2 separate regions of the Homo sapiens genome follow, and region 2 is linked to region 1. The links come from fine-mapping of genetic effects on gene expression. Tissue or cell type: whole blood. Region 1 holds a variant in brackets; the other region holds the start of a gene. All regions are shown on one strand. Distances are from middle to middle. Region 1 overlaps ACSM6 (acyl-CoA synthetase medium chain family member 6). Region 2 holds the start of CYP2C8 (cytochrome P450 family 2 subfamily C member 8).

Region 1 (4,404 bases):
AACATTCAAATAGCATGGGAGAAATAAGAATTTGTGGTGGGGGGCAGGGGGATTTCTTACATTTGTTTTATATATTACTACTGTTTTTATTAATTATACTAAGAAGGGAATTCCATAATCTTGGTAACACCAAAGCCTTTTTATAGGACTTAGTTCTGTCATACGTCCAAAAAAAATTCTTTGGTGACTAAGAAAACCTCAGACTGTGTGGGAGAAGACAAAACAGCCAAATTGATAGCCTAGGCTCTGGGGAGAGGTCTATAGTTTGAGGACCCTGGTGGAGCTATGTAGTTCCATATGGCTCAGGAAACATCCTCACTTAGAAAGCTAAAGAAAATTCAGAACACAAGGTTCAAAACTTTGAGACCTCATAGTCAAGCTCACGCTTGGTACGCAAGTTACAATTCAAAACTGTAAAAGAGGGAACTTGAGAAATGATCAAATTCTGTCTCAGATTCTGTCTATACTACACTCACAGATCCATTTAATTACATCCAAAGAGTTGACATTTTCAGCACCCAGGACTCATTGCATTGTATTTCCCCACTGATCTCAGGTTGTGAATGATTCTGTCTAGCAAGAAAACAGCACATCTTAGGCAGTAATGATTTTGGCTTTATCTTTCTTTTTATGAAATACAAATATAACTGACACTCAGAACATCTGAAATAAGGCAAGGTTGATACACTAAGTTGATATGACTCCAGCAACACCTAATAAACTTGGCATTTTTAGTTAGTCACACAACCTGCATGGGAGAAAATGTACATCTTCCATTTAATTGTAATGTACTGGCAATAGCTAAGGAGTCTTGTGTTTTGTGAGCATTATTTGGGATGCAAGTGATGGAAACATATTTCAAACAAGCCTGAGCAAAAGTGGAAATTATAAGTCCATTTTGCTGGGAATAGCTTCAAGGCTTACGGAATCAAGACTGGAGAGGCCAAAACACCAGGACTAAAAAAACTCTTAAAACATCAGCTCTCTCTTTCTCTCCCTCTCAATTGCTCCATCTGCTTTTTTCTCTGAGTTGTTCTCTGATGAGTTTCTTCCACAAAGCAGACAAGATTAACACCAGCAACTCTGGAGTCACCACTCCTTCAGACAAGATCAAAATAGCCCTACTTCTACCTCTACTTTGGAAAATTCTTGGAACAGACTCTGATTGTCCATGCTTCTGTCATATGCTTTTCCCTTGGACTATAACTTAAGGGGCCTAACCTGAGACATTTGTTCATGCCAAAAAGTGGATCTACAGAACCATGATTAATAGTCCCACCAGATTAGATGAAGGGAAGGAGGAGTTCTTAAAGGAACCATAAAACTAGTTACTGCGGTACACTAGAGAGAGATTACTATGGCCATCCTCAAAAACATTCAGAATCTGGGGGCTCCCAATTTGTTAGCATGTAAACACAAGAAAATATTAAGTCTCTTTCCGTGTAAGACACAGCAATAGGTACTGGAAAAATAACTATGTAGAAGACAGAAATAATTCCTGTTCTAGGCTGGGAACAGTGGCTCATGCCTATAGTCCCAGCACTTTAGGGGTAAAATTCTAATAAATAAAATTTTCTCCATCCCATTACACCCATGGTTGACTCATCCAAGATCCAGTTCTCATGTCCTCCAAGGTAGACCTCTGTGCCCTCTTTGGGGTGCCCTGCATGTATGCTGAAGTATTTCTCAGCAGCCAACAATTACTTATTTTTGAGACATTTATTATTGAAAATCTCAAAAGACAAAAATAGACAAAACTGTATTTGAATTCCCATGCATCCACTGCCCATTTCATCAATTATTACCTAATCCTGTTTTATCATTACTCCTCTACAATCCCAAAAACAATATTTTCTCATAAATAGCTTTAGTATATTT[A/T]AAAAAAAGGCACTAAAAAACAAACATATTCTCCAATTATACCTGAAAGTTAACAGTAATTGCCTTTTATTAACAAATATCTACCACTGACATTTTCATCCATCATCTAAGTCATGCATGTTTTCTTGCTACCATTTGTTCCAATTAAGCACACACATTGTGGCTAGTTGGTAAGACTTTTGTGTATCTTTTAATCTATGAATTTCCTCATTACCTTCTTTTTTCCTTGAATTTGTTATTTTAAAAAACTGAGTTGTTGGTTCTTTTGAATATTTCACAGCCTGGATTTTGCTAATTGCAGTATGGTTTACATGTTCTTCTGTTCCCCTGCATTTCCTGTAAATTGACCTAGAGGTTAATTTAGTCACACTCCTGCTTGATTTTTTTTTAATCAAGATTACTTGTTAGACTGTGTAATGTTGTTCTGTTAGGAGGCACATAATGTCTGGTTATGATCAATAACTAGATCCATTAATTTATTGCTTTTTTAAAGAAAAACTTGTCTGCATTTCTTTGAACAGGGTCTACTCTGTGCCACTTCCAAAACAATAAAATTGAAGCCAAGCTCTCTGGGGAAGCCATTGCCACCTTATATTGTCCAGGTAGGAGATCATAGTAATGATTATGACAGATATTATTAAGTGAGCTCTTACAGTTGTTTATCTAAATTTCTGACATAAAGGTAGGCAATGAGGAAAGTCCACCATTCTCTAAATTCACCCCAAGGATAATCTCACATTATTGCTTTTATTTCCACCTCAATATCCTTTTGGAATACAAAGCCCAGACACAGGAATGAGGGAAGGAGATGCTGACAATTTTGCAGAATATCCCTTTAATGTAGTTCAAGTTTCAAATATGGAGAAATCGAATAAAAAAAATTGCTATTAAAAAGATATGTGCAAAATAAAGACAACTATTTTGAATGCACCATAATAAGCATTCTGTACTTGAACTAAAAATATACTAAAGTGGGAAGTCTAAGCCACTAGTCAGCTGCTCGGGTGTCGATTATTATAAATACTGTAATGTGATTCCCAAATGATGTAGCTGAATTCACAGTATGGGCATAGGAAGCAATACTAAGATGGTAGGGCAAATGCTGTGTCTAGGATTTTATTACATAAAAGCAGACTCAAATTAGCAGCACTTATGAAATTACCATTATTCATTTTAAGATAGTCCTTTGCTTTCACGCCTATCTCGCCTTTTTTTAACATTGGTCAAAAGGAAATAGTAAGTTCTCAACCTGAATGAAACAAATATTAGTATTTACTTTAACTATTGTATCATTCTGAAATTGACCCAATTTTGTTAAAGATAATGTTTACTGTAGAGTTCTATTTTTTGTTTTTTGTTTGCCTATCCAGTTTCACTACATATTATTTAACAGGATGTGGAAGTTAACCTAATACATTGAGGTTTATATGTTTGTTTTTTCCAGTAATCATGAATAGGTACTACATTATATTAAATGTGTTTTCTGATCCTATTAAAAAGGTAAAATAGTTTTTCTCTATTAATAGAGTTAATTAAAAATATTTTCAAATGTTAAATTTTCGTTGCATTTCTTTCTTTTTATTTTCTTGGATTTAATTTCTTAATTTTTATTTGTTTGGGCCTTTGCATTTAGAGACATGAATAAAATGAGCATGTAATTTTCCTCTCAAAAAATAAGAAAAAATTAAAATGTTCCTTGCATACTAAAGTATAAACAAAAATGAAATAAATGAAATTGAAAAATAAAATGTTCCTTAGGATTTTCTTAGAAAAAAAATCTTCCTACAAAATCAACAAACCTTAGAACTAAGAAAAACAAATGAGAAAAATACACAAAGAAATAAAATCAGAAGTGAAAGAGGAGAAACTCCAACTCATGCCATAGAAATGTGAAGAATCCCTATAGAATCCCTATGAATAATTATATGTCAACAAAGCCAGGTGTGGTGGTGCATGCCTGAAATCCCAGCACTTTCGGAGGCCGAGGCCAGTGGATCACTTGAGGTCAAGAGTTCAAGACCATCCTGGCCAACATGGTGAAACCCCGTCTTTACAAAAATACAAAAATTAGCCGGGTGTGATGGCAGATGCCTGTAATCTCAGCTACTCAGCAGGCTGAGGCAGGAGAATCCCTTGAACTCAGCAGGCGGGGGTTGCAGGGAGCCAAGATCATGCCACTGCACTCCAGCCTGGGTGACAAGAGCAAAACTCCATCTCAAAAAAAAAGAAAGGAAAAAAATTATATGTCAACAAAATAGACCACTTAGAAAAAATGGATAAAGTCCTAAAAACATACAACCTACCAAGACTGAATCATAAAGAATTAAAAAGTCAGAACATACCAATAACTAACAAAGAGATTAAATTAGTAATCAAAAACCTTCCAACAAAGAAAAGCCCAGCACCAAATGCCTTCACAGATGCATTCTACCAGAATGAGGGACAAAGATGACATGATAATCTCAAAAGACACAGCAAAAGCATTCCACAAGATTCAACACCTTTTGATGATAAAAATTCTCAAGA
Region 2 (4,395 bases), 150 kb before region 1:
AAATCACACAGTTCATCCTCACTTCAACACATTCAGCACATTCATTTGACCTGTTTTAAAAATGAAGAAACTGAGGCCAGAGAATTGCAGATTCATTCTCAGAGTCCCACAGGTAATATGTAGAAGCTCCAAACTGGAATCTCTGCTAATTTAAACTGATGCTTGAGCAATTAATCAATCCCCCATGTCCACCTTGAGGCCACTACCCAGCTAAAGACTTCAGGGTCACTTGTAAAGCTCTTAACATGAGGATTCTGATACAGCAGTCCTGTGATGAACCCTAGAAATCTGTATTTACAGTGTCACCCCAGGTGATTCTAATGCCCAGTCCAGTTTGTAACTGCTGGTATTACCAATATGGAACGATGAAGCACCACAAAGTTAGAATCAGGACATTCAGCATCTCCTGGAAGAACAATTTCTTCCATTCTCCAGCAACCTTGGCCACAGACAGTGGCTTTCTTCAGAATCCAAAAGAATTCTGTTAACTACCTATTGGGCCCTGACTGATTACTTCTTTCTTTCATGCACTTATGTTTGCCCTGAACCCACAGATATTTATTTCACATCAGCCATCAAATGAATCTTCAGAGAAGTTCAATTTTCATGACCATTCTGAATAAAACACATGACTACTATAGTAGAGAACTTATTGGATGAAATTTCTAATCACACACACTTCCCTTCACCTTCAGTCAAAAATCATAGCAAAACACTGTGAAACAAAGAGGAGAAACAGCACTTTAAACTTTTGCCACTGTATTAAATGATTATATAATACAATGACCCCAATGTTTCTGTATTCACAAAATGCATCAACTCACTCCGCTATTTCTGACAATGACAGACTTAGAAAGACAAAAGAGGCCAGGTACGGTGGCTCACACATGTAATCCCAGCACTTTGGGAGGCCAAGGCAGGCAGATCATGAGGTCAGGAGACTGAGACCATTCTGGCTAACACGGTGAAACCCTGTCTCTACTAAAACATACAAAAAATTAGCCGGGCATGGTGGAGGGCACCTGTAGTCCCAGTTACTCGGGGGAGGCTGAGGCAGGAGAATGGTGTGAACCTGGGAGGCAGAGCTTGCAGTGAGTGGAGATAGTGCCACTGCACTCCAGCCTGGGCAATAGAGCGAGACTCCGTCTCAAAAAAAAAAAAAATAGGAAGACAAAAGAAACATCAAAGAAGTTCAGAGGGAGTATTTTGCTTTACAATGATCTATTATAATAGTGTGCTTCCAGGAATATATTTTGTCTAAAAATAGCAGTCAAATAACTTACCCTTTGCAATTGGCTGGAGGAACATAAGGCAGACTTACATTGGTGAAAGATTTGCAGATGTCCTTAACATCTATCTGTAGCATATTTCCAATAATAGGAAGAGGAGTGGGGCCAGGAGGGAGCTTCCTTCTCCTACAGCTCTGTCTCCAGAGTGAAAAGAGAAGCATAAAAGAGAGACACAGCACCAGGACCACAAAAGGTTCCATTGAAGCCTTCTCTTCTTATTAAGACAGCTGTGAGCTTGCACTCCAAAGTTTTTATAACACTCCCTGCTAATTTAGTGTGTGTCTCTTTGACATGTAAAGTAAACAATCACCTAGATCCAATTTATACTTTTTTTCTGAGTGGACTTTGGCCCATGGATAGAAATAAAATGTTCTTTTGTCCTACTCCTTCTTTCCAGTGCCAATCTAGGAGATTCTGGTTTAATTGTATTGGATTGGAGCCCAGGTATTTTTAATTAAAAGTCCCTGGTTGTTCCAATGTGCTGTGATGATGGAGAAACACTGAAGTAAATGATTCTATGTTAGAATATACTCAAAATTCAATATTCTCAGATTAATGACCAGTTGGGAATTTATGACCTTGAGGGAAATCAGTGTATTCTATATTTTGTGTATAAAAAATGTACATTGTAATGCTATATCAAAAAATAGGAGACTTAGCCCTTGATAACAAAAGCCTTTCAAATATTTAGTATAGTTCACTTAAAATACAGCTGCCTAAACATGAAATAGTGAATATAACTCATACATGTTGAATTACCATACATATATCAAATTATTAGCTAATAAATGTATATTTATATATATTTAAATGTATATAAACAATATACATAAATATATATGTTATTACATAATAATATTTGTGTTATTATTACATTATTATAATAATAGGTGATTATTTACTTTACATGTCAAAGAGACAAACTGAATTAGCAGGGAGTGTTACATACATTATTACATAATAATAACATAAATACATATTTATACTATTAAATATTATATTAAATATATAAAAGTATATATATAAATGTATATTCATCATTAAAAGAGACTGGAGTATAAAGATTATCATTTTTTATTTTTCAAATTGGGAAAGAAACTCTGGGAGAACAGGACACCTGTCAGTGCCACACAGCTCATTGCCGGTAAAACCGGGATTTGAGCAGAGATCTTCTGATACCCATTGGGGTTCATTACCACTTACACCACAGCTGGCTCAAGAACAATTTTAGAAAAACAAAACAAACCCCAGACATTAGTTACTCTGAAGATACGCCACCTTGACTCTGTTCAGAAAGCAACAGGCTTCACATTAAATAGAAGTCCGTTATTTGTTTATAAGGATAAGAGGACCGGAGACGCTCAAAAGAAGAAATAAAAATTAGAGTTCTCCCCTCTGCATCACCTCACAAGTGAAAGTTGTTCAGCACTATTAAGGAAAGGGCCAATCTCACATAATTTATGGCACAGGGCTTGAAAATCTATGGCTTCTCCACCTTCCAGTCACCTCCAGACATGGCTGCTTCTATTGTTTTTGGTCTGTTATTGTTACAAATAATAGAATGTAATCATACACAGCAAGGAAGAGAAATTATACACAGAACAACAGTTGTGGATTCAACAGAAGATGGAACACAGGGAAATCACTGAATGGACCCAGGGCACAGAACCACTGCAATGTGCAGACCTGAAATGGGAACTGATAGTCAATGGTCATGAAGATCTAAATACAACTGGATTTATGAACATTACTAGATCACTAATAACAAAGTGTGTATACAAAGGCATGCTCTGAAAAGATTACCTTTATTCTAAATTGACCAGTACAGTTATTTCCAGCTCTTTCATTAAGAAAATATTAAGACCCAGTTATACAATGTTTTATCGATTATGTTTATAGACATTATGACAAATTTACAGAGAATTTTCACACTCATCACATCTCTTTTTATTCTCTCAATTATCTTTGCCCACTGTAAAATTATTCCCAGTTTAGAGAGGAGAAAGTTAGACCATGGAGATTCAGTACTTTAGCTAAGGACACACAGAATGCAAGTGACCAAGCTGGGGCTGGAAACCATAACCCCTGCATCTTGCTGCCTTCCTTTTAAGCAAAACATCCAGTTAAACCGGGCCACCAAGATTGACTAAAATTCAATACTTGTGGATTAATCTAATCAGTGACTTTCAAAATAAACATTAATTTAGTTAATAATTCTAGCACCAGTTGAGTAAAATGTGGGTCAGACGTGTTTGGTTTTATAACCTTTAAAAGGTGAGTGAGTCCAGGTCCTGGTGAACCCTTTATCCAGGGCAAAGGGAAGTAGTAATTTGCTGCCTCACTCACGTAGGTATAAGCTAGTTTATTTGGATAAAATAAGTTCACTTTCTCTCTTTAGAGCAATAATTTTATTCCTTGAGAAACAGTTGCCCTTGCTCTGCTCCTTGTTTCTTCTCCTGAGCTGAGGCTCCTGCCTTGACCTTTCTTTTTATAGAATAAAAGGAACATAGATAATTTAAAGACAGACGGGATCTCTGAGATCTACTAATTTAATTTTGCTTTGTTTTTCAGGAATGAGCAATTGGTGACTCAGTGAGTTAGAGCATTATCAATGCACCAGTAAAAGATTTTGTATTAGAATCCCAGTTTTCCTGCTTGGTGGTTCAGTGAAATACCCTATCCTATAGAATTCCCACCTAAGTCCAAATGATCAAGAGTGTATTAGCATTAATTAAGCCCTCTACAGTCACAGATTGACACCCACCTCAGCTTGGATAGGGTTGTGAATTAGAGCGGGGTTTTTTTTTAATTAATAGAATTTATTTTTATAGCAATTTTAGGCTCCGAGCAACAGTTCCCACAAACCCCTTCACCACACCTACAAATAGTCTTTCCCACAATCAACAACCCCCATCAGTGGGGTTCATTAGTTACAGTCAGTGAGCCAACAATAAGACATAATCATCAACCAAAGTTCGAAGTTCACATAGGGTTTACTGTTTGTGTTGTACATTCTATAAATTTGACTGATGTATAATGCCATATATCCACCATCGTAGCATCATACAGAATAGATTTGCTGTCCTAAAAACCCCCCATGCTCTGC

What was found. PIP is the estimated chance that this variant, and not a neighbour inherited with it, causes the effect. A credible set is the group of variants that fine-mapping cannot tell apart.
Region 2: it holds the start of CYP2C8, and the variant in region 1 is the best candidate, but not a certain one, in a credible set for the expression of CYP2C8 in whole blood (TOPMed, PIP 0.77).

What each region holds. Positions count from the first base shown.
Region 1 is chr10:95,217,492-95,221,895 of GRCh38, forward strand. It overlaps ACSM6 (acyl-CoA synthetase medium chain family member 6), which reads left to right. Exons shown (of 11, transcript NM_207321.3): 9 at 2,400-2,480. The region is part of intron 3 of LOC107984257 (a long non-coding RNA gene); the gene reads right to left. Among named protein-coding and RNA genes, the nearest start is that of ACSM6, 25 kb to the left of the region's middle. The variant A/T (reference allele first, on the strand shown) is at 1,879.
Region 2 is chr10:95,067,914-95,072,308 of GRCh38, forward strand. CYP2C8 (cytochrome P450 family 2 subfamily C member 8) reads right to left here and starts at 1,584. Exons shown (of 9, transcript NM_000770.3): 1 at 1,322-1,584. The coding sequence starts at 1,489. RefSeq lists a promoter at 1,489-4,395 and a cis regulatory region at 3,399-3,419.